Regions from separate parts of the Homo sapiens genome. Here region 1 is linked to region 2. Evidence: fine-mapped expression QTL. Tissue or cell type: whole blood. Region 2 holds a variant in brackets; the other region holds the start of a gene. All regions are shown on one strand. Distances are between the middles of the regions.

What was found. PIP is the estimated chance that this variant, and not a neighbour inherited with it, causes the effect.
Region 1: SHISA4 starts here. The variant in region 2 is fine-mapped to the expression of SHISA4 in whole blood (TOPMed, PIP above 0.99).

Annotation. Positions count from the first base shown.
Region 1 is chr1:201,887,738-201,890,418 of GRCh38, forward strand. SHISA4 (shisa family member 4) reads left to right here and starts at 1,161. Exons shown (of 5, transcript NM_198149.3): 1 at 1,161-1,330; 2 at 1,708-1,879. The coding sequence starts at 1,258. RefSeq lists enhancers at 654-1,163, 1,004-1,298.
Region 2 is chr1:201,940,307-201,942,987 of GRCh38, forward strand. The region is part of intron 1 of LMOD1 (leiomodin 1); the gene reads right to left. Among named protein-coding and RNA genes, the nearest start is that of LMOD1, 4.9 kb to the right of the region's middle. RefSeq lists an enhancer at 1,145-2,094. The variant C/T (reference allele first, on the strand shown) is at 1,175.

The sequences.
Region 1 (2,681 bases), 53 kb before region 2:
TGCTGTTGCGGCTGGGGATCAACCCTGATTTAGATTTGGGTCTTCCTGATGCCTCTACCATTTACTGGCTGTATTACCTTGAACAAGTTCTTTAACCTCCATGAGTCCTAGTTTCTCAGTCTGTGAAATGCGATTGATAACACTGATGAACCTTGCTTAGTTCATGGAGTTGTGGAAAGATTCCAGTGAGGTAGATGTGGAAGCCCAGAAGTGTGTGAAAGGGTGTACATGGCAGGGGATTAAGGTAGGCTTTTGATGATCTCCCTGGCTTAATTTGCAGTTCCTCGGAGGGTACCTCATGTAGCATGGGGCATAGTCACTGGCACTCAGTATAAACCTGTGAAGACTGACCTCTCCCATCCTAAAACACTGTCTCCACCTGGAATTAACTGTTGCCCACCTGAAATTAACTGTTGCCCTCCCTATGCTCCGGTGGCTATTGCAGTACAGGCTTGCTCTGTGAAGGGCTTTCACTGTGAAGAGTGTTTAACTGGATGGGCCCCAGGTGGCCCCAGCAGCCTGCCTTCCCTGCTAGTGAGGCCATGGGCTGGTGCATGCCAGCTCTGTCCACTTGAAGGGGGAAGGGTCCATCGTAGGGAGCCAGTGCAGCTGGCAGGGTTCAGGCCTGTGGGCACCGCTGGGGACAAAGCCACTCTGAATGCCTCTCAATGAGTGCTTGTGTTCTGGGAATGGGGGCGGGGTGACATCCAGCCTCTTTCCCTCTCCGCCCCCGACAGGATGTCCCAGGCTGGACGCGGCAGAGGAGGTCCCCCACAAGTGAAGGTCCAGCCCTGCTCCTCCAGGGTTGGCCCATGTGTCTGGGCATTCGGAGGTGGCACCAGGATCAGGGCTTCTGGAGTCCAGCATAGTGATTGGGCCCAGGCCGGGGGCGGGTCCAGGACACAGCCAGGCTTCCCTGGCCGCAGTGCCCAACTGCCCGCAGTGCCCATGGTGGCTCGGATGGGAGGAACCACCGCGGAGCCGGGGACAGGGGGAGCAGGGCAGTGCTCTGCTGGGTGAGGGGCACCCAGCTCCAGAGGCTAGGTGGGCGTCGCTGGTGGGTGGACTCCTGGGCGCTGCGCGGAGCCGCGCCGGCTGGGTTAGCGCGGGCGGGGCGCTTAGTCCCACCCCCAGAGGAGGCGGAAGAGGAGCCCGAGCCTGGCCGCGGGCTGGGCCCCGCCGCAGCTCCAGCTGGCCGGCTTGGTCCTGCGGTCCCTTCTCTGGGAGGCCCGACCCCGGCCGCGCCCAGCCCCCACCATGCCACCCGCGGGGCTCCGCCGGGCCGCGCCGCTCACCGCAATCGCTCTGTTGGTGCTGGGGGCTCCCCTGGGTAAGGGGATGGGGAGAGATGCGGCAGGAGTGGGATGGGGGCGGAGGAAGGGGAGGGACCGATCCGAGGGGCTTGGGCTCGGGGCTTCTCCGAGACCCTCCGGCTGCCACGGGAGCCTTGGGTGTTGCTGGGTCCTCAAGAAGCGGGAAGAGGGAGCTCCAGGATGCTGGGCCATGGGAGGCTGATCCCGGGGTGCAGGGTCAGCTTCAGGCAGAGGCCTCGGGGGCTCTGGGGCTGAGACCCTCAGGGTGGAGACAAGGGGCAACCCTCAGTGTTCGGGAGCCGTCAGGCTGGGGACCGCCGGGGGAGTGGGGCCGAGCGCGGCTGGGGATGAACTGGCCTGGTGGCCACTGGGCACCCCCAATCCCTGCCCGCAGTGCTGGCCGGCGAGGACTGCCTGTGGTACCTGGACCGGAATGGCTCCTGGCATCCGGGGTTTAACTGCGAGTTCTTCACCTTCTGCTGCGGGACCTGCTACCATCGGTACTGCTGCAGGGACCTGACCTTGCTTATCACCGAGAGGCAGCAGAAGCACTGCCTGGCCTTCAGGTGGGTTCCTGCCTCCTCACCCTCACCACCTCCTCTATCCTTTTCTCCAGAGGCCTCCTCTTCCTCCCTCCCGGACTCCTGCCTCCTCCGTTGTCGACCTCCACATTCTTAGCTGAATAGAGTCACCAGGACTCAAGCCTGGCGGCAGAGCTAGGTGCTTAGGTGCTGGTGCCTGGGAGTTCCAGAAAAGGCATGTTAGTTACCTTCATAGGCTTTGACTGGGCCCGGGGTTTCCAGGTTCTTTCTGGAGCCCTCCCTTTGGTCCTGCCAGGTCATGGGGAGGGAGGGTTCAAGGTTAACACCCGGACGACAGTGTAGCTTTGTGGAAGAAGCTCTGGCACAAAGGCAGGAGACTTGGGTTTGATTCCCAGGTCCACTTCTTACTAGCTGTGTGATCTTGGAGAAGACACTTGCCTTCTATGGGTCATTGCTTGCCAAATTAGTGGTTGTCAAACTTTTTTTTAATATATCATATATAAAATAGATATAGAGACTTCTGATTGAAGCGGGGTTTGGAAAAAATGGCTCTAGATTATTTCTAAGGCTCCTTTCAGTGTTATGCTGTATGTCTAATCATTTAAGTTGTAGATATAAAAGCAATGGTTGGGGGCGCACTGCAAATCCCCGTATGCTTCACACTAGCCAGCCAGGCAGCATAGCCTTCTGGGAAGTGGAGGTCCTCTAAGATCTCCTTCACAGGGACTGGGCAGAGCCCCACAAGGAACCCCAAATCTCAGCATGCCATGGCCCCCCTGCTGGCCAGGAGTTGGAGCCAGCATAATGAGGACTCCGTCCTATGAGT
Region 2 (2,681 bases):
CTCCCGAGCAGCTGGGACTACAGGCATGCGCCACCACACCCAGTTAATTTTTGTATTTTTAGTAGAGATGGGGTTTTACCATGTTGGCCAGGCTGGTCTCGATCTCTTGATCTCGTGATCCACCCGCCTCGGCCTCCCCAAGCACTGGGATTACAGGCATGAACCACGGCACCCGGCCTAACCAAGCTCTTATACCTACTGTCCCAGTAAGGAGAAGGCAGGCACCCAGAGGGCAGCACTGAGGGTGGGAGCAGGCACTAATGCCTCACTTGCTCAAAGTCTTTTTTTTTTTTTTTTGAGATGGAGTCTTGCTCTGTCAGCCAGGCTGGAGAGCAGTGGCTCGATCTCAGCTCACTGCAACCTCCGCCTCCCGGGTCAAGTGATTCTCCTGCCTCAGCCTCCCAAGTAGCTGGACTACAGGCATGCACCACCACGCCCAGCATTTTTTTTTTTTTTTTTGAGACGGAATTCTGCTCTTGTTGCCCAGGCTGGAGTGCAATGGCACGATCTCGGCGCACCGTAACCTCCGCCTCCCGGGTTCAAGCAATCCTCCTGCCTCAGCCTCCCTAGTAGCTGGGATTACAGACATGTGCCGCTATGCCTGGCTAATTTTGTATTTTAATAGAGAAGGGGTTTCTCCATGTTGGTCAGGCTGGTCTTGAACTCCCAGCCTCAGGTGATCCACCCGCCTTGGCCTCCCAAAGTGCTGGGATTACAGGTGTGAGCCACCGTGCCTGGCCATTTTTTTTTTTGTATTATTAGTAGAGATGGGGTTTCCCCATGTTGGCCAGGCTGGTAAAATTCTTTTTTTTTAATTTAATTTTTAATTTTTTAGAGATGGGGTCTTGCTATGTTGCCCAGGCTAGTCTCGAGCTCCTGAACTCAAGTGATCCTCCTGTCTCAGCCTCCCAAAGTGCTGAGATTACAGGTATTAGCCATCACACCTGCCCTCAAAATTCTTTAAATATTATATACATACAGAAGAAAACGTATAATAACAATATTTAAAACAAACACCTGTGGATTGTACCACCTAGTTTAAGAAACAAGCAGTTGCTTTTTCAAACTCTGGATGGAGGCAGTTTCAAATTTCAGGGCGAGATTTTAACAGTCTAACCCTCTCCGGTGCCTGCTTTTGCCTCCCTGGGTCAACAGGCCCCCGTCACCTCTTCTG[C/T]CCTCTTCACCCTAGCCTCCAGGGCTATTTTGGGTGTGTACCAGTTGGGGTTAATCTCCTTAAGCATTGAGCCGTGCTGCTCAGTGCACTCCTGATAGGTCCCAACCCTCTGCAAAGGGCATTCTGAGGGTTAGGCCGCCGGCCTCGGGCCTTCCCGGCCCCGTAGAGATACCATGGACACTGAGCTGTGAACTAGAACCGATGGGGGAGGGGGCTGCTGAGGCTGTGCAGGCAGTGGGAGTGGAAGGTCAGGAGGGCTCAGGCCCAGCAGCCGCTATTAGTAGGTTGCTTCGGGTTTGCTTCTCGAGTTTACCTCTAGGGAGAGCTTTCCTCCACCCCCACCAGCTCAGCTGCCCTGACCCTGGCTGGGTACAGGCGCTAATCCCCAGCCCCTGCTAACACCAGGGAGAAGGGAGGGGGAGGCAGGCTGGAGATTTTCTTTCCCACTTGGGAAGGAAAGAGGACACACAAGTTGACCGGTTGGGATCCGGTTCCTGAAACCTGAGACAAGGACAAGAGTTTCACTGAACCGTTGGCTACAGCTTGCCCAGGGGCTTTGTCTTCTACCTGGGCTGAAGGAGAGTTCCCGGATGATTAGGGCGGAGCTACACTGGCTGACAGGTCTGGCCCTTTAAAGGGAGGGAGAGAAGCTGGGGTCAATTCTTCCAAGTCCCACCTCTACCCTCCCCAATCCCCTGCTAACATTCACTCAACAAACAGAGGCTGAAGGCCTGCTGTGTGCTGGGCCCTGCATTTGCATTTTGCCCTCCAAGTCCCACAAGCTGGTGAGTGAGACAGCCCAAGAAAACAGATGATTATACAAAAGTCATGTCCCAAGGGCTTTGGTACAGACTGGTATTGGAGCGCTCAGACAAGGTGCCTGACCTTGAGGGAGTCCTGGAAGACTACCTGGAGGAAGTGGTACCTGAGACAGGCAGAACAAATAGGAGTTGACCTGGAAGAGGCAAGGGTGGAATATTCATGAAAAAGATGGTAAACAATCAGGAGGATCTCTGGAATATCCCATCCCTTGGAGGGAGACCCTGGAGGGAGAAGCAGGCCAAGGGCCCTCTGGCAGCCTAGACTCACTTTGCACAATAGCCAGAGTATGCATCTTGGGGCTGTCCTTCTGGGGAAAAGACAGACCTTAAGACTGTCTTAAGGCCAACCTCCCAATGTTGGTTTCTTTCTTTCTTTTTTTTTTTTAAATTTTATTATGAAAATTTTCGAACATACATACAAAAGTAGAAAAAATAATATAATGAACACCCATGTAGACCCATCACCCAGCTTCAACAATTGTCAACTGGTGGCCAATCTTGTTTCATCTATATATACCCCCACCCAGATTATTTTAAGGCTAATTCCCAAAGCCAATAAATTTTTCCCATAAATATTTATGTATTTATGTCTAAAAGAAAAGAATCCTTTAAAAAGTATATCTGCAATGCCATTATCACACCTAAAAGAAATTAATAGAAATTCCTTAACAGCATCCACTATCTAG